Regions from separate parts of the Homo sapiens genome. Here regions 1, 3, 4, 5 and 6 are each reported to be linked to region 2. Evidence: microRNA targets listed by miRTarBase, many of them from high-throughput screens and not tested one by one. Region 2 holds a microRNA gene; each other region holds the end of a gene's coding sequence.

Region 1 (4,087 bases), not on the chromosome of region 2:
TGCATCTCTTTCCTTACATACTAAAAGGGACTTTGTAGACGTGGCGAGATTCATGATCTTCATGGGGGAAGGGCATCCTGGATAATCTAGATGGGCCAATACAATCACAGGGGTCCTGTCAGGGGGCAGTAGGAGAGTCAGAGAAAAAGGAGATGTGATGACAGAAGTTGGAGAAAGGGACCACCCAAAGGTATGCACGCGGCCTCTGGGAGCAGGAAAGATGGATTCTCCCCTGAAGCCCCCAAGAAGGAATACAGCCCTGCTCACACCTTGATCTTAGCTCAGTGAGACCCATTTTGGACTTCTTACTTCCAGAATGTAAGATAAATTTGTGTTGCTTTAAACTACTAAATGTCTGGTAATTTGTAACAGTAGCAATAAAAACCTGATAGGAGGAAATCAGAATTTCACTGAACATTCTGCAAAATTTGCTCTTCTGGGCACAAGTCTTTGTTTAACTGCAGGGCTTAAGGCCCGCAGAACTTAGTGGTGCCTTTCTTGGCATGCCACCCTGGCAGGTTTTCACCATCCTTCAGGCCTTTCTCTCCACCTCTGTGTACCAAGCCTGATTTCTGCTGTCCCCAAGAATCTCCTTTCATTCAACCACCTTTGCGGCCTACATTTGATTAGCTATTCTAAAGTAGTGGTGTCAGAAGCATTTGAACCAGAGCAACTCCATCTTCAATAGGCGCTGGGTAAAATAAGGCTGAGACCTACTGGGCTGCATTCCCAGCAGATTAAGGCATTCTAAGTCACAGGATGAGATAGGAGGTCGGCACAAGATACAGGTCAGAAATACCTTGCTGATAAAACAGATTGCGGTAAAGAAGCCGGCCAAAACCCACCACAACCAAAATGTTGACGAGAGTGACCTCTGGTCGTCCTCACTGCTACGCTCCCATCAGCACCACGACAGTTTACAAATGCCATGGCAACGTCAGGAAGTTACCTTACATGGTCTAAAAAGGTGAGGCATGAATAATCCACCCCTTGTTTAGCATATCATCAAGAAATAACCCTAACAATGGGCAACCAGCAGCCCTTGGGGCTGCTCTGTCTATGGAGTAGCCATTCTTTATTCCTTTACTTTTCTAATAAACTTGCTTTCACTTTATGGACTTGCCCTGAATTCTTTCTTGTGTCAGATCCAAGAACCCTCTCTTGGGAAGGACTCCCGGTAACAGTGTGTGTCTGGTAACAGTGTGTGTTTGGGAGGAGGGTTACTAGAAATAGGTAGAAATTCAAGGAGCAAACATGAAATATAAAACTTCGCGTATTTTCTTCCCCAGCATCAGGCCGAAGAGAAAGAAAGCTACAGACTGAGAATCAGAGACATTGGCAATTTGCAATCTAGCTAGGAACCCTGAACTGCACTATACTGAACATTTGCTCTGTGCGTTATAAAGTCTGGGGCATGGGCAGAAGTTCCCAGCCTTTTAGTCCAGACCCAGGAGGCTAGATACTGAGAGACAGTAGAGGCGATGGTGAAAGTGTAGTTCTTAGTTTTGAAAATCCAGATTTGAATAATCATTCTGAGGATCACGGTTCCTGGTCTTACTTCCTCCAAGGGGCCCCAAACGGAGCCCGCTGCAGGGTGAGCTCCTCAAAGCCGCTGAACCCAGAGGGCGCATCACTCCAACCTCTAACCCAAGACATCGACTTCTGGGTCCGTGTCACTTAAATAAGTTTATAAAGTGCACGTCTCTGGCACTAACCAAGAAAGGCAAGTTAGCAAGAAAGCGCGCTTTTTAACTGTCCTCTCCCAGAATAAAAGGCCCTTACTTTTTATTCTAGATTCTGGATAATTTTATTTTTTCTTTCCGTCTGTTACTAGTTGGGAGCTAAACACTGGCCAGGGTCCCAGCGGCTGCTGGAAAGGCGCCTTCCTAGGAGCAGAAGGCTCGCTTAGGAGACACTGGGGGCAGGGAGCGAACTCGCGGCTCTTTGTCCCCGCAGCAGTTCGGTCGAGGCTATTTCCCGCCAGGCCGAGCCCCTGGTCTGAGCGCCCGATAGCGGGGTGCGGCGAGGAGACTCCGGGAACACTCGCTGGGCAAGCAGCTAGCACAGCCCCCCATCTCCTCCGGGTTGGGGGACGCAGGCGCGGGCCTAGGCCGCCGCGGGGGCGGGGACCACCCACGAAGTCCAGCGCCCCGCCCCGGACGCGCCCGCCCCGCCTGCCTCGCGCGCTCCTCCCGGCGCCAGGAGGCCCAGCGCACCGCGCCGAGCTTCCTCGGAGTCCTCCCTACAGCCGACTCAGGGAGAAGGTCCTGGAGGGCCCGGGTAGGGGAAGAGAGGGCCTTCTTCCTCCTCATTCCCCGTCCCGGCCCCAGCGGAGTGCTCATGTCCCTCCTCCCCATCCCCCTCCTGTTTTGGGTGACAAATTAATTTTAATTAGAAAAACACAGATCAGGTTTTGGAACAAAATTATGCTGTTCCTAGATTGGAACTGGGACTCTTTCGACCTAATTTAGAGCAGAGGGCGAGGCTGTGGGAGGGTGGCAATGCATCGGTTGAAGGAGACGCGCGTGTGGCGGGCAGCAAGGGGGAGGTGTGTGGCGTTTAGGAGAGTCTCCAGTGCCGTCCTCTGCAGGGCCCTTCTACACCTCCCCTTCCAGTTGCCAGAATGGAAAATTCATGGAGTCCCGCGTAGCCCAGGTCAACACGCTTTTATTGCCACTTCTGGCTCCCCTCGTCCCAGCAAGATTCCTACCTCTTACCCTGTAGGAATACTGAGCTCCGATGCAGGGGAATGGGGTGGGGGTGTTACCACTTCTCCTCTGCACACTGCCAAGTTAAAGAAAACCCTGCTTGCTGGAGAGGGAGGGCCAGACAGGGAGGAATTCAAGGGCATGTATGGCTCAGTCCCACTTCTGACTGCAGAGTATAGGGACCAGGGTTCCAAACTTTTTTTCGAAGTAAGGGAGGTGGGGAAGAATTTGGCTGCTGTTGTACCCCGTGTCCTAGCTGCCATGTTTCCATGGAAATGAAGGCGGGGCAGGATGTAGCTCACTCTGACTACCTGGGAGGATGGCAGGACAGGCATTTGGTAAACATATCTCCCTCCACTCCTACCTAGCACATACGGCTGTCCCCAGCCGACCCCCAGGCTCTCTCCTCACTGCCTGCTCCACTCCCTTCCCTTCTGGAGCTGGTATCATGCCAAGTGGAGTCCAGGCAGGGCTGCCAGTGCTACTCTCCACAGCCAGGTCTCACTGGCACGTTAGGATCTAAGTATGTCCGCCAAGCTCAGGAGCATCCCTGCTAGAGCTGGTGGTGGCAGTGCCTCGGTGAAAAGGCAGCAGCAGTACCCCCAACTCTCTGTGCAACTGCTGTTTCCCAAACAAAACTGAAAACATAAACCCAAACACTTAAGGGTATCACTCTGGCACAATGCTGAGGGCTGGGATGGGGGAGAGGAGGCGCATCCTCCTGAGACTGGAGCCACCTGTGCACCCTGCCTTCTGCCCATCTGGAGTTTGCTTCTTCCCACTGGGCTGTCACTGGGGGGCTGGAATCCAAATCTCCATTTGGTGCTGCTTTCAGCACCCACTGCTGTTCGTTTATGAGGCTTGCCAGTTTCCATGGTGAGGAGGTGCAGGATGGATTCTCAGTACCATGGGTCAGCCCGGTGCTGCTGGTTGTAGAGCTGTAGCTTGATCTGATCTTTGATCTGATTCACTAGGATCTGGGACAGCAGAATTCCCACCAGCTGGGAGAGGCAAGAAGGAATTGGGCACTCAGCAGTGAGTGATGGCCTTGTTTTCCCTGGCTCGATCTTCCCAGTGCGGCCAGCACTATCCCTTTCCCTACCCCTCAGCCATGTCAGTGCCTGACACCCTCGCTGATCCCCAGGTGCCTTCCCCAAAACAAAGGAGTCTTTACAGAGTGTGTGGGACCAACAAGTCTCACAGGGTAAGTTACCTGGGGGATGGCCAGGCCTAGAGCCACACCACCAAGTAAGAATAGGTTGCTGTGTATCCAGTTGACCAACTTGTCAATACAGCCATTGGTGTAGATGACTTTGCTAGCTTCCAAGTAGTCAAAGGCCTGCATACCTTGGCCACACATAGTGTTGATCACTGCCTGG
Region 2 (4,087 bases):
CACATTCAGCGCCCTGTAGCTGAACACAGCACAAAAAGCCCTAGAGATCAAAAGCATTAGTATGGGCAGTTGAGCGGGAGGTGAATATTTAACGCTTTTGTTCATCAATAACTCGTTGGCTTTGACCTGTCTGAACAAGTCGAGCAATAAGGTGAAATGCAGGTCACAGCGTCTAACAAATATGAAAATGTGTATATTCACCCCGGTCTCCAGCCGGCTCAGCAGGCTCCCCCAATTTGTCTGGATAGAGCCTAGGCCCAGTGTCCCAGGAAGGTGGATACTTGGGAGTCTTTGGCATTCAGGGAAATTGGGGGGACTCTCCTGGGATAAACAGATTCTGCAGCCTCATAGCCCTTGTTAGAACTGGCGCCCCCAAAATCCCTACGAAACAGGTAAAGTGGTGGAAGCAAAGGATGGGGGGATGAGCAAAGTGCCAGGCTTGGAGGGGGAGTATCCCTGCCCCACCCCACCAGGCCCAGGCCCAGGCTTGAAACTAAATTTTGAATTATGTGGGAGGTAGGAAGGGCAATCAAGACAGTTAAAAAAAAATCTAACACCTTCAGCCTACAGTTAGGCACCCAAAAGCCCCACTCGAGCCAGGGCATCCCTGTGCCCCTGAAATCCATCGAGGCTCTGAGTGAGTCTGCGCTCTCCATGCCCTGAACTGAGGGACAAGCACTGCACAGTGCCGAGGCGCTGGGGCGGGTGAAATTTGTGAACTTTTGTACTCTTGTGTGCTGCTGTCGGCAAAGCAAAAATAATGAAAGTTTGTGATATGTTTGTAAATGATTTCGAATGACCCCTCGCCCTGCCCTTCACCATTAGCGCGCCGGCCTCAGCCCAAGGCGGCTCGGTGCCTGTGAGCAGCGCCTGCCTCGGGGTCTGCAGCAGCAGCGGAACGGAGAGGCCAGCCCGGATCAGGGCCCATGAAGGTAAATGCGCGACTTCTTGGAGAAGTAGCTTTGGCAGACAACCTGGCTTGGTCGGGCAGTAGGAAAAGGAGTAGACACAGGATATTCCCCTCTCGCTTCTTTTTCTTCTGCCGCTGAGGGCATTTGTTCCTTTCTGGAAAATACCACTTGGTAAGGAGGAGGGTTATTTGGATCCTGGTGGGGGAGGGTGGTTAATAAAGCCGCCATCCTTGGGATGGATTATTTTTCTTTCTTTCTTTCTTTTTTTCTTTCTTAAGAAGAATATTCTGGTTGTTCGCCTGCTTGGTAACCCTGACCCTGGCAGAAGAATGAGGGAACTCATTGCTTCAAATTGTCGCCAAGCCCATTAGGCTACCTGAACTGTCTCAGAAAGTGCGGGTGGCTGCGTCGAACGGTGGTGGCTCAGAGGAAGAGATTGGGGCCGGCAGCGACCTAGGTACCTCACTCTGGGTGGGACCCAGAGGTTGTAACGTTGTCTATATATACCCTGTAGAACCGAATTTGTGTGGTATCCGTATAGTCACAGATTCGATTCTAGGGGAATATATGGTCGATGCAAAAACTTCACGTTTCTTCGGAATAGCCAGAGACCAAAGTGCGACATGGAGACTAGAAGCAGCCGGCGCTGGTCAGCCGCCTCGTTCTGTTTTATTACCTTGGACTCCAGGAGGATCAGCTGCGCCTGGTGACATAGAGCAGCTTTTCCTCTCCAGAAGCTCCTCACCTTTAAACAGAGTATCCTCTGGGTGCTGAAAAGAAAGAAAGACAGAAAGAGAGAAAGAGAGAGAGAGAGAGAAAGAGAGAATGCAAGCCTAATTGGTTGCATGGATGCAGGGCCAAAGGGCTAGGTTTTGGGGTACTAGGGAGTGAGGTACAAGGCCAGCTTGCCCAGTCCCAGCTCTGCCCTCCAGGAACATGAGGTGCAAAGGTACCCAAATGGGGGCTTGCTTGTATTTGGGGCCTGTGGGAAGAAAGCAAGCTTCAAAGAAGCCCAGTGGGGAGCTCTAGGGTGCATTTTGACAAGGTGGAGGTGCCCTTGCCACCATCCCAGCCCACCCCCAGCTACATGGGCAAGGGCAGCGAGGGCCCCCTGCTATTTTGGCAGGGCCCAGCTTTGGCTGGGAACCCCCGGGCCTGGGCACTGGTAGAAAGCATGGCGGTTACTCATTGCCTAATTTGATTCAAGCTGGCCAGATTCTGGTAACTTTTGGGTGACCCTGATGAAGACAAAGCCAGGACGGCGGCCTTTGTATGGCAGAATCCCTGCTCCCGCCGGCTGCAGGCAGGGCGGGCAGGCAGGAACCCTCCTCGCCTGGGGCACTCTGCCCAACTCAGAGGCGAGTTCACCCACCCACCTTTCATTGCTCTGTACCCCAATAGGAGGATTCATTCTCCCTTGAGCTGTGCCTACTTGGTGTCGGGGGGCGGGGGTTGCATTCAGCTGGGGGTGAGTGGAAGGGCCACGGAAGGTTGGCAAAATCAGTGGCAGACAAAAGCTGGGATTACCTGAGGGGAATGGGGTGCTGGGGACTGGAACTACATTAATATCTGGCAGGGGCTCTCAAATGTGCCATAGCAAGCTACTTGATTACACGTATGTTATTTAGTTAAATTTGTGAAAATTATGAGATGCTCACCAACCCGGTGATAAACTTGCTCCCTCGCCATTGGCTGGCCTGGTCACATGGCTGCCCAACTTTATTCAGTTGACAGCAAGTAGGAGGGCCCTATGGAAGGAGAAAAAAAGACAACACGAGAAAAATTAGTATTTTCTACCTTCTGAAATTAATGGTCATGAGTTCGTATATGGTGAACTCCAAGTATGTGGACCCCAAGTTCCCTCCGTGCGAGGAGTATTTGCAGGGCGGCTACCTAGGCGAGCAGGGCGCCGACTACTACGGCGGCGGCGCGCAGGGCGCAGACTTCCAGCCCCCGGGGCTCTACCCACGGCCCGACTTCGGTGAGCAGCCTTTCGGAGGCAGCGGCCCCGGGCCTGGCTCGGCGCTGCCTGCGCGGGGTCACGGACAAGAGCCAGGCGGCCCCGGCGGTCACTACGCCGCTCCAGGAGAGCCTTGCCCAGCTCCCCCGGCGCCTCCGCCGGCGCCCCTGCCTGGCGCCCGGGCCTACAGTCAGTCCGACCCCAAGCAGCCGCCCTCCGGGACGGCACTCAAGCAGCCGGCCGTGGTCTACCCCTGGATGAAGAAGGTGCACGTGAATTCGGGTAAGGCTAGGGTCCAGTAACCTTTCTGTCCACATCCCAGCCCGTTAGCCTGGGTCCTCTGGAAGGGGGTGCGAGTAGGTGGGGGCGTGTGGAGCTTCCATGGGCGCCGCAATTACTCTCCCCATAAATTTTTATAGCTGAGGGAGCAGGTCAGGACCATGTGGCTGGCTGCTCGGCTGTGGGCGCAAAAGGGGGTGGGGATGGGGGGGTGGGGGAGGACTCCATTTTCAGAGCAGGGGGAAGGCTGTGGAGGAGCGGGGGATTTCCAAAATGCTTGAGGGTTCCGGACCTGGTGGTGGGCCCAGAAGAAGGAGCACATTTGGGGATCCCGCAAGCCTGGGGTATGTGGGTGTGTTTGAGGAGGTGGGTGGGAGTGAGCGTGTGCGCCGGGGAGAGGGCGGGAGGGAGGAAGCAAGCGAGCTTGGGAGCGCGCGGGGAGGGCCGCGGGCCTCGGGGCGCGCCAGGAAGTGAGCGGCGGAGGCGAGGGGCCTAACTAGTGGCCGGGCGCTGACCTGCCTGTCCTGTCTGTTTTGTCTCGCAGTGAACCCCAACTACACCGGTGGGGAACCCAAGCGGTCCCGAACGGCCTACACCCGGCAGCAAGTCCTAGAACTGGAAAAAGAATTTCATTTTAACAGGTATCTGACAAGGCGCCGTCGGATTGAAATCGCTCACACCCTGTGTCTGTCGGAGCGCCAGATCAAGATCTGGTTCCAGAACCGGAGGATGAAGTGGAAAAAAGATCATAAGCTGCCCAACACTAAAGGCAGGTCATCGTCCTCATCTTCCTCCTCATCTTGCTCCTCCTCAGTCGCCCCCAGCCAGCATTTACAGCCGATGGCCAAAGACCACCACACGGACCTGACGACCTTATAGAAGTGGGGACCCTGGGCCCATCTCTCCCTGCGCACCAGGCTGAGCCGAAGCTGCGGGG
Region 3 (4,087 bases), not on the chromosome of region 2:
AGTGTGTGGCAAGGCCTTTGCCATCTCCATGCGCCTGGCAGAACATCGCCGCATCCACACAGGCGAACGACCCTACTCCTGCCCTGACTGTGGCAAGAGCTACCGCTCCTTCTCCAACCTCTGGAAGCACCGCAAGACCCATCAGCAGCAGCATCAGGCAGCTGTGCGGCAGCAGCTGGCAGAGGCGGAGGCTGCCGTTGGCCTGGCCGTCATGGAGACTGCTGTGGAGGCGCTACCCCTGGTGGAAGCCATTGAGATCTACCCTCTGGCCGAGGCTGAGGGGGTCCAGATCAGTGGCTGACTCTGCCCGACTTCCTCTTTGGCACCTCCATTCCCTGTTGCTGAAGGCCCTCCAGCATCCCCTTAAGCATCTGTACATACTGTGTCCCTTCCTCTTCCCATCCCCACCACCTTGTAAGTTCTAAATTGGATTTATTCTCTCGTGAGGGGGGTGCTCTGGGGTCCTTGACACACATAAAGGTGCCCCCCCACCTTCCACCTCTTAGCACTGGTGACCCCAAAAATGAAACCATCAATAAAGACTGAGTTGCCAGCAGTGTGTAGAGTGGAATTTGGGAGTCATGGGTCTTACCTCTCGTGGCTGCATCACCAACACCCAGAAGTGGGCCTGGCAGGTATTAGGGGTAGTAGGAGCTCAGTAAACATTTGCTGGGCTGAAGAGAATGACCTGGTGTTCATGGGCATGGCTCTCATAGCAGGGCCTTCACTTCACTGCTAGATGGAGGTAGCATGGCTCTCTTGCCACTAGAGGTCCCATGGCTCTGTGGAAAAGCTCAAGAGTGTTTGTACTGGTGGCAGGAACTTTCAGAGAAATCAGATTTTTACACTCCTGTCCCTGACTCCTGGCCTGATGTGGACCTTGTCTCCCAAGGCCATCTGATTTTCTCATTGATCCCCAAGAGCAAATGCAGGTAGGCATGATCTCTAGAGCTGTGGAATTAAAGGAGATTCTGAATAATATGTGTCTGGATGTAGGAAGATTCATGAGAGGTGGTGACTTGAATTCCCCTGGAGTTGGACTTTGGCTCAGCCAACAGATTTTTATTGTGAGTGATGGATTGTTGGGATGGCTGGCTAATGTTTGAACATCTAGTCAGTCTCAAGTACTATATAACTGAATAATATTCACACTGATTACGTGAGAACATTTTGCAGGGAAGGAATCTCCAGTCAAAAGCATTGAGATGACTTGCCCAAGGTCACATTCAATCCAGGCAGGGCAGAGCTTGAATTTAAGCCTGATTTCATTTCATTTGGTTTAATCACCGATATGCTTTTCTCTCTACTCTGTTGCCTTCTGCATACTTTGGGGAGGGTGGTAGAGACAAGATGGGAGTATGTGACTGGTGGGATGCTAGGCTGCTGTGCTAGCCTTGCTTCTGAGACCCCCCCCCCCAAAGATTATTCCAGATCTTTCTGTTGAACTCTTTTTCCTTTTTATTTTTGAGTTGGAGTCTTTGCCGCCCAGGCTGGAGTGCAGTGGTGTGATCTCGGCTCACTGCAGCCTCCACCTCCCAGGTTCAAGCGTTTCTCCTGCCTCAGCCTCCCGAGTAGCTGGGATTATAGGCGCGTGCCACCACACCCGGCTACGTTTTTGTATTTTCAGTAGAGACGGGGTTTCACCATGTTGGCCAGGCTGGTCTCAAACTCCTGACCTCAGGTGATCTGCCCACCTCAGCCTCCCAAAGTGCTGGAATTATAGGCATGAGCCACTGTGCCCGGCCTGAAAGAACTCCTTTTTTAAGACAGGGTCTCACTGTATCACCCAGGCTGGAGTGCAATGGCACGATCTCGGCTCACTGCAACCTCCGCCTCCTGGGTTCAAGCAATTCTGCCTCACCCTCCCAGGTAGCTGGGATTAGAGCTGCGCACCACCATGCCAGGCTAGTTTTTTGTATTTTTAGTAGAGACAGGGTTTCACCATGTTGGTCGGGCTGGTCTTGAACTCCTGACCTCAGGTGATCTACCTGCCTCAGCCTCCCAAAGTGCTGGGATTACAGGCATGAGCCACCGCGTCTGGCCTAAAACAAATTCTAATAATTGTTCTTGTAAAATAAATGACATAACATTTGAAAAGTTAATGTATTAGGGTTCTGTTTATACAAAAAAAAAATCAGGTTATGTGCGTGTGTGTGTATGTGTGTATCCTACCTGTTATATGTATATAAATTACACAATAGATACAGTAAATAATATATATGTATATAAAGATTTTTTTATAGTTTGTTTTACTCTATAGACATACAAACATACATTTTAATGTTTATATACATATATATAGTTCCAAATCCTAGGATTTGGAGTATTCTTTTTAATTAAGTTCTAGGGCACATGTGCAGAACATGCAGGTTTGTTACATAGGTATACACATGCCATGGTAGTTTGCTGTACCCATCAACCTGTCATCTGCATTAGGTATTTCTCCTAATGCTATCCCTCCCTAGCCCCTCACCCTCTGACAGGTCCTGGTGTGTGATGCTCCCCTCCCTGTGTCCACATGTTCTCATTGTTCGGCTTCCACTTAAGAGTGAGAACATGTGGTGTTTGGTTTTCTGTTCCTGTGTTAGGTTTTATTTTTATCTTTTTATTAAAAATGGGGTCTTGCTGTGTTGGCCAGGCTGGTCTCAAACTCCTGGCCTCTAGGGATCATCCCATTTTGGCCTCCCAAAGTGCTGGGATGAGAGGCATGAGGCACCACACCTGGCCTGTTTTTTTCTATTTTTCAGAGTCTCGCTCTGTCACCCAGGCTGGAATGCAGTTGCACAATCACAGCTCACTGCAGCCTCAACCTCCTAGGCTCAAGTGATCCTGTGATCCTCCTGCCTCAGCCTCCCAAGTAGCTGGAACGACAGGCGAGCACCACCACGTCTGGCTACTTTATTTTGTAGAGATGGCGTCTTGGGTTCTGTTTGGTTCTGACTGTGCCACCTTGAAGATGGGCCTGAACCAAATGATCTTCCTCCATGTACTATTTTTATGTCCCATCCCTGTTGATTTGTTTTGAGAGTTGAGGGGCTTTGCTTTCTTTGTCTTGCCAAAACACTGCAATGCTGACACTTTTTGTCTTACTAAATATGAAACCTGTCTTTCACTCTATTCCTTTTTCCTGTGCCTCAGTTCCCCCAACCCTCACTATCGACTTTGCAGGATCCCAGCACCTGTGTGCCAAGCATACATTAGAGGATGGAACAGTGCTGAGGAAACGCAACAGCTTTTTTTTTTCCTGAGATGGAGTCTTGCTCTGTCACCCAGGCTGGAGTGCAGTGGCACAATCTTGGCTCACTGCAACCTCCACCTCCCAGGTTCAAGTGATTCTTCTGCCGCAGCCTCCCAAGTAGCTGGGACTACAGGCGTACACCACCACGCCCAGCTAATTTTTGTATTTTTAGTACAGACGGTTTCACCATACTGGCCAGGCTGGTCTCGAAGTCCTGACCATTATAATGATCCACCTGCCTTGGCCTCCCAAAGTGCTGGGATTCCAGGCGTGAGCCACCATACCTGGCCCAATTTTGTTCAATTTTTGTAGAGATGGGGTCTCACTGTGTTGCCCAGGCTGGTGTCGAGCTCCTGGGCTCAAGGGTTCTTCCTGCCTTGGCCTCCTAAATTCTAGGGTTACAGGCATGAGCCACCACACATAGCCTGTTTTTTTTGTTTGTTTGTTTTTGAGACGGAGTCTCGCTCTGTCGCCCAGGCTGGAGTGCAGTGGCACATTCTCAGCTCACTGCAAGCTCTGACTCTGGGTTCATGCCATTCTCCTGCCTCAGCCTCCTGAGTAGCTGGGACCACAGGCGCCTGCCACCATGCCCAGCTAATTTTTTGTATTTTTGGTAGAGACGGGGTTTCACCGTGTTAGCCAGGATGGTCTTGATCTCCTGACCTCGTAATCCACCCGCCTCGGCCTCCCAAAGTGCTGGGATTACAGGCCTGAGCCACTGCACCCGGACTTTTTTTTTTTTTTTTTTGAGATGGAGTCTCGCTCTGTCGCCTGGTCTGGAGTGCAGTGACACGACCTCAGCTCACTACAGCTTCCACCTCCCGGATTCAAGCTATTCTCCAGCCTCAG
Region 4 (4,087 bases), not on the chromosome of region 2:
AAAAGCAAATATAATTTTTTTTTTTTTGACAGAGTCTCGCTCGGTCACCCAGGCTGGAGTGCAGTGGCGCGATCTTGGCTCACTGCAACCTCTGCCCCCTACCCCTGCCCCATCCCGAGGTTCAAGTGATTCTCCTGCCTCAGCCTCCCCAGTAGCTGGGATTACAGGCGACTGCCACCACACCCAGCTAAATTTTGCATTTTCAGTAGAGACTGGGTCTCATCATGTTGGCCAGGCTGGTCTTAAACTCCTGACCTCAAGTGATCTGCCCGCCTCGGCCTCCCAACGTGTTGGGATTACAGGCGTGAGCCACTGGGCCTAGCCTAAAAGCAAATATAATTTTCTTAAGCCTGGTCTGGATTTTTGTTTTTTTTTCCTTGCCTCAAATCTCCTTTTTGAAGGCCTGGCCTGGATTTAAATTCTACTAGCAACAGGATAATTTATCTCCTGAAAAATTTCTGGAACTGTATCATGTCCTAAAATTAACAAACCTATTCTCACCCCTCAAAAAAACTGAGTGCCTTCACCTTATCTTTACTCCTACAAAATCACTACCAAAATGTATTTCCTAAAAACTCCTAACCACATAGAATTGAATCTCTACCCTTGCACTCAGCACTTAGATGCTATTTTCATCAGTATCTGTGTTTGTATACTCATTAAAATGCACATCAAGACCTAATATACTTAAAGTGGTAAAATTTACATTCTAGTTATTTTCCAAAATATTCTCACTCATTTTGTATTAATAAAAACAGCTCTATCTTCCCCTCCCTACAAAAAACAAAATGGGGCCCAGTAAGGGCATTAACTAATAATGAACTATGGACTGGTTTAAATTGGAATCTTACTGAGATTTCTTTTTCTCAAAATTAGAAATTTGGAGGCTGGGCGTGGTGGCTCAGCTGTAATCCCAGCCCTTTGGGAGGCTGAGGTGGGCAGATCACAAGGTCAGGAGATAGAGACCATCCTGGCTAACACGGTGAAACCCTGTCTCTAATAAAAATACAAAAAATTAGCTGGGCGTGGTGGCAGGCACCTGTAATCTCAGCTACTCAGGAGACTGAGGCAGGAGAATCACTTGTACCCAGAAGGCAGAGGTTGCAGTGAGCTGATATTGTGCCACTGGACTCCAGCCTGGGCGACACAGACTCCATCTCAAAAAAAAAAAAAAAAAAAATTTGGAGACCAGATTTTTCTACAGACTTCATTTTTAGATCACTTACCAGTAGTGATGATGATTTCCCCATGTATTCCAGGACTTGTGCATTACACATGATGAACATTCCTCCTATCTCTCTAATGTGCTGGTTTACTCCTTTCTAGACCATGCCTTGGGATACCCTAACTTCACAATCACAAGCTTCAGAATTGGGAATAAATCACCTAACAGAACCAGACCACACTTTCCATCTTGATAATAAGTGCCACACCCCAACATGGGGTGCTTCAGGAACTCTTTGAGCTTAAAAGTGTTAGATTATATTCTCCTAAATGTAGTCCATATTTTGCCAATTATATAAACTCAAAATTTATCTGTATTGAGAGCTTATACATACATGGCTGTCCCTAGATCTAAATAATTTAAATGTGAAAATAATTACCAACAGACCAAAAATTAAACCAGACATATTGAAGATTTATACTTTAATTTTTAAATAATCATATGAACCAAAAACACTATTTCTAACTTTTTTCTTTCAGTTCTGGTAAGAGACTGAATCGATTTAGATTATAGCTCAGATTAATTTTTAACTCAACAATGTTTATTAGAAGGCAACTGTTTTTATTTTTTTTCAAGGGAACAACAGAACCACAAGCATTAGCGAAAGATGAATTATCTTTGAAGTTTTGAATGTTTGAACCAGATTTGGATCATATTGATGATGGTCCCTTGTGATAAGCTTGTTTCTTTTGGATAATCTTCAACCTAAAATTACTAATTACTGAAAAATCAAATTAATGTATTGTTTTCATAATAATACAGCAAGGTAAAAGTCTGTGTGGAATATATGGAGTGTCACTTGTGTACCATGTAATAATGAATATTTAGAAACAGATTCAACACTGAAACACTTAAAGCAAATTTCAGGGGCTAACTCCACATATTACATATACCAGGAAGCACTGGTCAGATTCATTTTAAGTAGTCATAAATAATTTCAAACGTTTATTAAAACACATAAATATTAATAGAAAGTCTGGAATTGTGATAATGTTCCCAATTCATTTTTATAATCCAGAATATCGCCTCCTTCCTTCCAAAAGAAAGGCAAAATCTAACAAAATAGAAAAAAGTATTTAGGCAAATAAAGTAGCAACCTAGTTAATTTTTTCTCTCCAATAGTATTTTAGGGCTTTCTTATTTTACATGAGACGATGCTGGAGTAGAAGGACACAGAACACTTTTTTACACACATTTAACTTTTTTACTTTATCAAAGTAGAAATTACCATTTTGTTTTTGGCATTTTTAAGCACTCCAAAATGTTTACCAATGTACCCCTCCTTTTCAGACAGGATTTGGGATAAATGGACTTTGGCACATATCTAACTCTAGTAACAATATTTTACATATGTACACTTATTCCATATATATTCCTTAGTTATTTGATAGCATTTTCCACAGTGGAGTCATAAATTCTGTTCATTATGTTCATTTACAATGAACTACCAGTTAATCTTAGAAAATTTTAGTTTCACAACTTCTGTTAAATTATATTAACAATGTTTCTTTTTTGGAGGTAACTGTTGAATTCTGTACTCAAAATTACACATTTGTTTAAATAAATATCCACACAAATTCTCAGTTACATCAAGTAGCTGGTTTATATTTAGATTATCTCAAGTAGGGGGGAATAACCATGTGTAGGAATTCATAGAAAAATAAACAATCAGCTGAAGAGGTCTAAGAAAATGCTGACTTTTAAAATTTCACTTATTTTCCTTGAAGTTTTCTACCCTTCCCATCGATGATAAACCAAGATCATGTAATGGAAAATTTCAAACCAGGGCTAAATTCTAAAGTAAAGCTTCAATTCAAGCCCTTCCCCCAAGAGAATTAATTTTTCTGATTTCTCTTTCTCTCACATCTAAGGAGAACATTTTAGGCAGTTAAATTTCAGAACTTCAAGGTTTCATCAGGGTCACCTTTATGTACTTGTCTTTAGGGAACCACAATTCTACCTATCGTACATTTCCTAGAGGAAGTACTTATCACCAAAGGGCTAGGCAAGGCCACATACATGTCCCTTAATTAGGAGTACAGAGCTAAAAATCTGGTGTCTGATTATTAAATGTGCACAATATTTGGGTGTAATCGGCATTTTAAAAATTCAGTAATGCCCATTATAAATAACTTATCTGGACAGACTCAATAATAAAAATAACTGGTTAAAATAAAAAGAACCACCTGTTTAATAACATATAAATATCTTGTTAAGAATGAATCAGTGTGACCTGGGAGAGTTTAGAAATTCTTGAGTTAGTTACAACAACATAGTGATAGGTTTTTCAAGGTACTTTCTAAACTCAGCAAGCCACTGGGCTCCAACTGCTCCATCCACCACCCGGTGATCACAACTGAGTGTAACAGACATCATGCTAGCCACATCAAACCTAGAAAAAGATAAAGACATTTTAGATATTCTGAAAGAAAATACTGCATTTCAGCCAGTAACCACCCAAATGCTCACTCCTACCCTATAATCCCAACCAGGTAATACTTCCTATCTACTCTTCCAGTCTCCTATACCTTTAGCTCAAATTTATAGCTTGAAGAAACAGACCAGATACCTGGAGTATGGGTGGGCAATGGGCCAAATCCTGTCCTCTGCCTGTTTTTATTAGGTAAAGATTTACTGCAATTCATTTGTCTTGTTTATGCCTCCCTTCATACTACAATGGCAGATTATTTGCAACAGCAGCCATATGTCCCAGAAAGCCTAAAATACTTACTATACAACTAAAAAAAAGCATGCTGACTCCTCACCTAGAATAAATAAGGCTTTCCACCTCAAATAGGACTAACTGCATTTAGTAAAGTTGCTGCCTTGAAGAATTTCGTATTTTTTATATATATATAATTT
Region 5 (4,087 bases), not on the chromosome of region 2:
GCTCTTGTTGCCCAGGCTGGAGTGCAATGGCGCGATCTCGGCTCACCGCAACCTCCACCTCCCGGGTTTAAGCAATTCTCCTGCCTCAGCCTCCCAAGTAGCTGGGATTACAGGCATGTGCCACCATGCCCGGCTAATTTTGTATTTTTAGTAGAGACGGGGTTTCTTCATGTTGGTCAGGCTGGTCTCGAACTTCCAACCTCAGATGATCTGCCTGCCTCGGCCTCCCAAAGTGTTGGGATTACAGGCGTGAGCCACTGCACCTGGCCCAGCAGTCTTTTCCAAATCAAAGACAGCAGGGCGGGCACACAGTGTCCAAACCTCATGGTCTGCCTGTATTTAAAAGGCATCTAGATACATTGGCATTCCTTCAGCAAGAAACAGCTTTAGTAAGAAAATTCCCCAGCAGCACACACAGTATCATCTGGGTTCCTGAACTGAAATAAACTAAAAGTAGAGGAAAGTATTTTGTGAATTAATCCAGTCTACCTTTTTTCTTTCAATCCTAAATCCATGTTAGAAATTGTGCACTTGAAGGCGGAAAAATGAAAGGAAGAAATATAACTAGTAGTTAAATGGAAGATTAACTAGTTAACTAGTTCCCTGATGTGTTTCAGTTGGATACTTTTGTAAATTATATCCATCTTTGGTGTAGGGAAGTTTCAATGTGAAAAAAAATCTTGTAGTTATGAAGAAACAATTACAGTGAAGAAGCCAGGGGACCGGGCGCGGTGGCTCACGCCTGTAATCCCAGCACTTTGGGAGGCCGAGGCAGGCGGATCACTTGAGGGTCAGGAGTCCGAGACAAGCCTGGCCAACATGGTGAAACCCCGACTCTACTAAAACAACAACAACAACAACAAAAACAAAAATTAGCCAGGTGTGTTGGTGCGCATCTGTAGTCCCAGCTACTCAGGGGGCTGAGGCAGGAGGATCGCTAGAACCTGGGAGGTGGAGGCAGCAGTGAGCCGAGATCGTGGTGGCACTTCAGCCTGGGCGACAGTGAGACTCCGTCTCAAAACAGCAACAACAAAAATAAGCCAGGGATCCTAGAAATATGCAAGAAAAAGCCATACTAACCAAACAAAAATTTAAGTGCTAAGACTGAGGGTGAATTTGGAAAAATATCATGCTTTCTGACCCAAATCTACCTCAGAATTTTTTTTTTTCCTTTTTTTGAGACTGAGTTTCATCCTTGTTGCGCAGGCTAGAGTGCAATGGCGCAATCTTGGCTCACCTCAACCTCCGCCTCCCAGGTTCAAGCAATTCTCCTGCCTCAGCCTCCTGAGTAGCTGAGATTACAGGTGTGCAGCACCACGCCCAGCTAATTTCATATTTTTAGTAGAGGCGGGGTTTCTCCATGTTGGTCAGGCTAGTCTCAAACTCCTGACCTCAGGTGATCTGCCCACCTCAGCCTCCCAAAGTGCTGGGATTACAGGCGTGAGCCACTGTGCCCCGCAATTCTTTTTTCTTAAGTGTTTTTTAAAACAGGATGCACACTCACATCCAATAACATGCAGTTTAAAATGATTTAATTGACAAATTCTTGTGATTTACATTTCAGTAATCAACTGCAAAAGTGAGGAAGTAATTCATGGGCCTGTAGTGCTTTTGAAAATAATATTTATGACTCATAAAAATGTACATTCATAATAGTATGACATGGACATATTTTAAGAAAGTTCAAGCATATACAAGCATTGTTTAATCTCACAAAATATATTAATTTTGTTGGGAATATGTGCATTATAAAAGGGTCTTTAGTTTACCAAAGGGTTCAACACTAAGCTATTTTTAAAGTTGTAATTATTTTTTCCAATCTAAAGAGGGGTTAAGGCCAGGTGCAGTGGCTCATGCCTGTAATCCCAGCACTTTGGGAGGCTGAGGTGGGCGGATCACCTGAGGTCAGGAGTTCAAGACCAGCCTGGCCAACATAGTGAAACCCTGTCTCTACTAAAAATACAAAAAAACTAGCTGGGCATGGTGGTGCACACCTGTAATTCCAGCTACTCGGCAGGCTGAGGCAGGAGAATCACTTGAACCCGGGAGGTGGAGGTTGCAGTGAGCAGAGATCGCGCCACAGCACTCCAGCCTGGGCAACAGAGCGAGACTCTGTCTCAAAAATAAAATAAAAGAGGGGTTAAGACTCATGCTGTCTTCACACATGGCCCTGCACAACCATGTGGAGGACAGGAGGGATATTCTTGAGAGATGCTGGGCAGACAACTAACAAGTGTCCCTTAAAGCACACTTCTGAACAATGTCCAGTCAAATATAAAATAACTTAAATATGAGGGTCACTCCTCATCTGCACGCACCTGTTACACTTTTTTTTTCCTTACTCATTTACACTGGGAAACATGTTATAATAGTGAATAGTTGGTTATGAATCTTTCAAAGAACTTGGAAGGGCCCCTATAATTATTTTCTGAAACAATGGAATTCTCTTATGGAAAAATCTTCCAGTGAAGGAAAGGGTAAGTTAAAAAAAACTTGAATTAACTTAGGTTAGCATGCTTGCCAAGGCAAAAGCAAGTTGCTTTTCTCCATGTTTCGAGGCTATGAGAAAGCGGTGGATACATGCTTTACTTTTCAGCCAGAAAATACGCACTGCCATTCCTGAGAAGATGGCAGGCAGCACAGCTGGGCTCTAGCCTTAAAGACTCAAGCTTTCTCCTTCCTTCCAGTCCTACCTCTTTACTTCTCAGATTTCCAGCTGGCTGGATGTATACATAAATGACTTGCATGGCTAAGTAAAACATTCCAGCTTATATTTTCAAGGATTTCCAAGAGTTCTTGCTTTTGGACAAATTAATAAATGCAAATTAGAACTTAAAACGCAGTTCTAATTTTATTTCTATTTTTGGTTGTTAAAATCAAAACAAAACCTACACACACACAGTCCTAGGGTTTTCTCAAACGAAATCAACAGTTCTTTGGCAATGTTAAGAGTGTGTAACATGACTGCCATGCTAATTAGCATAATTTATAAGACTTCTAATAGTGTTGAAACAGGAAAATAACTATAAACTTGTTAGAGAAGTTCGTTTGAAAGACACTGTCAAATGTCACACTAAGTCTTTTTAAAAACTCAATTTAGTAAGTAGAAAATATAAATGAACAAATTTAATTTTTCCAGATAATAAAGGAAGTTATTCGGCATTTTTCCCAGTTACGCAAAGACAATTATCACGTGAAAAATTTATAGAATGTAAGCAGTAAGAGAGTATTATGCAAAAATATCCTAAGGTAATTTCAGTATAAATTATAGGACCACATTTATTAATAATATACGTTATGAGAACAATCATTTGCAGTCTCACTGTGAAGGCAAAAAAAAAAAAAACAAAAACCAAAACCCAAAGGATAAACAGAAATAGCACAGTCCACCGAATACACTGCATGGTGTTTATAACTGTATAACCAAACTAAGTAATCTTTCCCCTCTCTTTAACTTTTATGCACCACCTGCCATTCTAGATACTATCAATCACACTAAATAATAATAAAAACCAACCACCTTCAATCTGATCATTCTGGGCAGGAAACTGAATACAGTTTTGACCAGATCTTCGAGAAAGATTCATATACACGAAATTAACTAGTTCTGTTAAAAGGCTGCTATAAAAATACCATCATTACGAGCTATACAGAACTTTAGAATCCAGCTAAGAGTGCAGAAATACTGAATTTCTTAATTTATGTGGAGGGGGCTGTAAACCCAAAGGTAGAAGGGCATTTCAGCATTCTGGCGTGTTCAGAGTTTCTAGGGTATAGTATCTCTCTAACACACAGAGAGCATTTCAAAGGGTGGCTATGGCCAGGAAACCTCAGAGCGGGTTCTGCCGTCACACTTGATCCCGAAGGCGGGCCAGTCTCTGAGACAGTTCATCCTGCTCCGCCGAAGCCACGCTCGTGCCCACGGAGCCGGTCTGGCCCTGCGGCAGCTCCATGTTGAGGTCGAGGCCCGCCTCATCTGCCATTTCCTGGAGCAGCATATCCACTTGGTTCTGGGGAGTGGTGAGCGTCGTCGTGCTGCTCATCGTGTCTTCCATTTGCTGCGTCTGGACGTCCAGAGTCTCAAACT
Region 6 (4,070 bases), not on the chromosome of region 2:
ATGGGGGGATGTGTGTCTGATGGAGGGGTCTCCTGAGAGGTCAGTGATTGCCTACGATGGGGCTTCCCTCCCAAGTCATCAAGTTCATGGGAGGCTGCATCCCATGGGTCTCTTTCAACACCAGCCCTGACTGAAGAGCTGCTCTCTTCAGCAGTGTATTGTTGGAGCGAGTGCTGGAATTGAGTCATTGTCACTGGAACAGCTGGTCACCGCCCAAAGACGGGGAGCCTGGGTCCCAGAGACCAGTCCCCAACATGGGTGCTGGGTCTGGGGAGATGGCCCGTGACCAGGCTGGGGTGGCATTTCCCTGACACTGGGCCTTTGTAGTGACAATCCCCTCTGTGCTGACGCCGCTTCTCAACGGTGGGATGGCTGAGGCCTCTGACTCCTGGGTGAGGCCAGCTGTGTCCCTGACCATCTGCTTGGCCTGTCAGTGGCCAGGGCACTCTCGAGGTGGCCTCCACTCTTCCCCCAGCCCTGGGTGCAGGTGGGCACCTCTGCAGGAGCCAGTCTTGTCTGGAGGTTCTCTGAAGGCAGGAACCCCCACAGGCCCCAGGGCATAGCAGCGCCTCAATTAGCCGAGAGCAAGGCCTCTCGTGGTGATGTGGCTCTTGTTGTTTGTCCCGGGCCCTGGGGCACCCGGCTGAGTGTCTTGGTCCCTCTCCCACCCCACCTGTGAGCTTGGGGTCTCCCCTCAGAGGCCTGAGGAGATGGTGTTCCCTGGGTGCTCCTGAGCACCAGCCCTCACTGCCAGGCTACTCTTGGAGCAGCACAAGGTTAGGATGTGCTGGCCACCGCCTTGGGGCTGGTGGCCGCCTGGGCACTCAGGGCCTCCTTTGGGCCGTCTTACCTCGTCTCTCTCCTCCAGGAGGCAACGCACGGGCCACAGGCATGTTCCTGCAGTATACAGTGCCGGGGACGGAGGGTGTGACCCAGCTGAAGCTGACAGTGGTGGAGGACGTGACTGTGGGCAGGAGGCAGGCGGTGGCGTGGCTAGTGGCCATGCACAAGGTACCTGAGCCCAGGCCAGGGAGGCTGGGCCCTTTGGCTTAGACAAAAGCTTGCCTTTCCCAGAGGAAGCTCTGTGTCCTGCCATTTGCCCCCTATCCCCACAACCTGTTCCCCCTCAGCTGGGGTGCCCACGCCATCTCCCCTGAAATGCACACAGGCTTGGCTCCACCAGGCACAGGACCAAGCAGGCCTCACTGTGTTGATCTTGTCTGATCTGCAGGCTGCCAAGCTCCTCTATGAATCTCGGGACCAGTAACTCTACGTGGGGCTGAGCTTGGAGTACGTGTGGTCACCAGGACTGAGTCGCTTGGAACAGCAGAGCCTGCTCCTTGCGTACCACAGGGATTAATCCTGCTTGTGCTGGGAAATGCAACTCACTCATGTATTTGGAGAAACAGGAGTGTTCACTTATCTAGTGCAATATGTTCACAGTTTATTAATGCTTTAAACAGCTTCATGTTTTAGAATTTGTGTATTGTCAATACTTAATTGGGGGTGGGAGAGACTGAGCTACACTACTGCTAAACTATTTTTAGCATAATATATACCATTTTTATGAGTTCGCAGGTCTACTAGAAGGTTCTGGCCCATCAATATTCATTTCATTTAATTCTTCCACAGAACCAGTTTGGGCAGTAGGAACTCAGGCTTCTGGTCTGCAGTGGAGCCTGTTCGCCTCTAATAGCCAGTTTACAGCACTTGCCTTAGCCTGTTTCACAGACTTGTCCACTTACCTTGTCACTAATTTGGGGCTTCTGGGCTGTGAGTGATCCTTTGATACTTCACCAAGGGGAACGTGGGGGCTTTGTGTTTTGTACTTTTCACTCACTATTTCACTTTATTAAGATGACTGTACAGCAATTTGTATATAAAGCTTATGATTAAAAACTATTTTGAACATACGGACAAGGCCTCGCCTTCCTGTGTCCAGATCACCTGAACCCTCGTGCCACAGCGCAGTCTGGGTCCAGAAAGAAGACTCACAGCCGCCGGGGTGAGACGGGTTTATTGTGCACATTTACACAGCGTCAGCAGCGTCTGGGCTGGCAGCGGCCATGCTCCTGTGGTCGGGCTGCTCTACAAGGGCGTTCACTTTTCTTCACCACACTATGTACAGTCAGTGCTCCAAGGTGATGGGCTACAGTGCTGCATCAGTGAGTCTGTACACACATTTTTACATAAATTACACACGACTCATACATGAAAAATAGAGCCTAAGGGCCTGTATTTTAATGAGAAAAAAAAAATTTCCAACATAGTTCGGGTAGCTTTGAATGGTCTAGTCAAAAAATACTTTTGGTATATAAAAAGCCTGTACGTACAATTCACACCTCAGTGAAGCGCCCTCCTTGCCTTGAGGCTGGGCCTGGGACAAAGGTGGCCTCACAGCCAGCCCAGGCAGGGAGATCGGCAGAGAGGGGTGGCCCCTGACCCCAGCTCCTCTGCCCCAGCTGCTGCTCCTTGGTGGCGGCCCCTCCTGACACCAGGCGTCTGCCATCCTTCAGGCACCAAACAGCCCCGTCTACCTGGCCCTGGTCTGCCCTCACACCAGTCCACCCCCAGCCCCAACCCCAACCACCCTCCGCTGCCACGGCCTCCAGCACCTGACTCCATTCAGGGAACTGAATTTGAGCTTGCAGGGGTGAGAACCACACTGAGCAGCATGACAGGCTGTGAGATCGGAGGAGAAGAGTATATGCTGAGGCTCTCCCAGTTGTCACTTGGTCTTAGGGGTCCTGGTGCCCGTGGCGCGGCAGTCCAGCCACAGTGCTGGGCCTGCACAATCAGCCTTTAGGTGAACTGGAACAGGAAGCGGAACCCCCAAGGCGGCCGAGCAGAGTGGGTACTGGGAGGCATACACACTGGGCAGCAACACTGGACATGTTTCCATACAGAGGCTCCTTTGGTGATGAAGGGAAGAAGGATCATGTGTGGGAAGTGTGAGAAAGGATGAGTGTCCGATTCGGTGACGGGGGGCAGGGCGGTCGCAGGGGAGCAGGCCTCACAGCGGCGGACAGTGTTCACTGCTGGAGGGGGTGATGGCCTCGGGGCCAAGTCAGTAAGAGCTTCTGTCTTCACTGGCAACCAACCGGGGGTTATGGGACTTCTTAATGGCAAGAGGGGTGGGTGTTTTGAAAGTGGGTATTTATTTGGATTTATAGTAATTGGCAAAATTCAGTCCTTGGAGGCGAAAGTACCTCTCCCAGTTAATGGGCAAACTGGAGAAAGGGCCTCACCTGGAAACTGTAGGATTCACATTGTGGACGCTGTCTGCTAAAGTGAGCACCATTAAGACCATTTTCTAGCTGCAGCTTTCCTGGAAAACAGCACAATAATCTCTTAAGTGGCTCCTGGTAGCTGGCAAGACCATGCGGTGCTCCAAAAGGAAGTTCAGGCGAGTGTTCGCTGTCGGGGTTTGATCCGTGGATACAGCTGGGAAGCAACGGAGCCGCGTCAGGACAGGAAGCCACACACAGGGAGCAGGGCCAGCCAGACCCGACCCCTGCTCCTCACCTCAGCCACCCTGGACAGCCGTGCAGCACCCTTGTCCCTCAGGCCTACGCTCAGCTGCACCTCTACACTGAGACCCACCCAGCCCTCTTTAAAATGTGCCTTGTACCCCCAGAATATCCTATTTTTCTCACAACACTTCATGCCACCTAAAGACTTGTGACTGCCTGTGGCTCTCAAGGTCATAAGCTCCCCTGGGCAAGGGTCTCTGCCTGGCTCCCTGCTGTGTTTGCCTGGCCAAGAACGTTGGCTCAACAGCAAGCCCCTGGCAGCTCTGCAGGGCACAAAGAGAGCAGAGGCAGCTCCCTCTGCCAGAGGACTGAGGGAATCACAAGTCCAACACAGAGCTAGCAGCCTGCACGTTCCCACCTCTCCCTCCACTGGAGAAATTTCTAGGCTGCAGAGATTTCTAGATTGGGGAAAGTGTGGGTGGGCTGAGCCGGGCCACTTGGTGAAGTTCATCATGAACCGAGCTCATTGAGCGGCCCCTCACTGGGGCACTCAGCCTCCGCACGGGCCTCCATGGCATAAGCATGGCTGGGGGAACC

The links. The annotated mature microRNA hsa-miR-10b-5p reads UACCCUGUAGAACCGAAUUUGUG and lies in region 2 at 1,416-1,438, shown strand. An mRNA with a match to its seed (bases 2 to 7 or 8) in the 3' UTR can be bound and repressed. Matches are read on the target gene's strand: a 7mer-m8 pairs with bases 2 to 8, a 7mer-A1 pairs with bases 2 to 7 and ends in A, and an 8mer does both.
Region 1: miRTarBase lists TSPAN33 as a target of hsa-miR-10b-5p. Seed matches in the 3' UTR shown: 8mer at 2,715-2,722.
Region 3: miRTarBase lists ZNF574 as a target of hsa-miR-10b-5p. The part of its 3' UTR that is shown has no 7-base or 8-base seed match.
Region 4: miRTarBase lists DLAT as a target of hsa-miR-10b-5p. The part of its 3' UTR that is shown has no 7-base or 8-base seed match.
Region 5: miRTarBase lists CHMP1B as a target of hsa-miR-10b-5p. Seed matches in the 3' UTR shown: 7mer-m8 at 1,942-1,948.
Region 6: the mRNA of PPP1R13B is a reported target of hsa-miR-10b-5p. The part of its 3' UTR that is shown has no 7-base or 8-base seed match.

Annotation. Positions count from the first base shown.
Region 1 is chr7:129,167,395-129,171,481 of GRCh38, reverse strand. It overlaps TSPAN33 (tetraspanin 33), which reads right to left. Exons shown (of 8, transcript NM_178562.5): 7 at 3,922-4,083; 8 at 1,783-3,709. The coding sequence ends at 3,608. Among named protein-coding and RNA genes, the nearest start is that of SMO, 19 kb to the left of the region's middle. RefSeq lists enhancers at 717-1,586, 1,656-1,705 and a silencer at 2,076-2,295.
Region 2 is chr2:176,148,914-176,153,000 of GRCh38, forward strand. MIR10B (microRNA 10b) reads left to right here and starts at 1,390; the gene lies at 1,390-1,499. It overlaps HOXD4 (homeobox D4), which reads left to right and starts at 2,637. Exons shown (of 2, transcript NM_014621.3): 1 at 2,637-3,153; 2 at 3,695-4,087. The coding sequence starts at 2,721. The coding sequence ends at 4,029. It also overlaps a transcript of HOXD3 not described here. RefSeq lists an enhancer at 2,356-3,089.
Region 3 is chr19:42,080,997-42,085,083 of GRCh38, forward strand. ZNF574 (zinc finger protein 574) reads left to right here. Exons shown (of 2, transcript NM_022752.6): 2 at 1-556. The coding sequence ends at 301. Among named protein-coding and RNA genes, the nearest start is that of ZNF574, 6.9 kb to the left of the region's middle.
Region 4 is chr11:112,061,936-112,066,022 of GRCh38, reverse strand. It overlaps DLAT (dihydrolipoamide S-acetyltransferase), which reads right to left. Exons shown (of 14, transcript NM_001931.5): 14 at 1,619-3,617. The coding sequence ends at 3,488. It also overlaps a transcript of PIH1D2 not described here. Among named protein-coding and RNA genes, the nearest start is that of PIH1D2, 10 kb to the left of the region's middle.
Region 5 is chr18:11,851,873-11,855,959 of GRCh38, reverse strand. CHMP1B (charged multivesicular body protein 1B) reads right to left here. Exons shown (of 1, transcript NM_020412.5): 1 at 1,516-4,087. The coding sequence ends at 3,849. The region is part of intron 5 of GNAL (G protein subunit alpha L); the gene reads right to left. Among named protein-coding and RNA genes, the nearest start is that of CHMP1B, 2.5 kb to the right of the region's middle. RefSeq lists a silencer at 3,836-4,087.
Region 6 is chr14:103,731,752-103,735,821 of GRCh38, forward strand. It overlaps PPP1R13B (protein phosphatase 1 regulatory subunit 13B), which reads right to left. Exons shown (of 17, transcript NM_015316.3): 17 at 1,444-3,444. The coding sequence ends at 3,403. ZFYVE21 (zinc finger FYVE-type containing 21) reads left to right here. Exons shown (of 7, transcript NM_024071.4): 6 at 869-1,011; 7 at 1,232-1,913. The coding sequence ends at 1,267. Among named protein-coding and RNA genes, the nearest start is that of ZFYVE21, 18 kb to the left of the region's middle.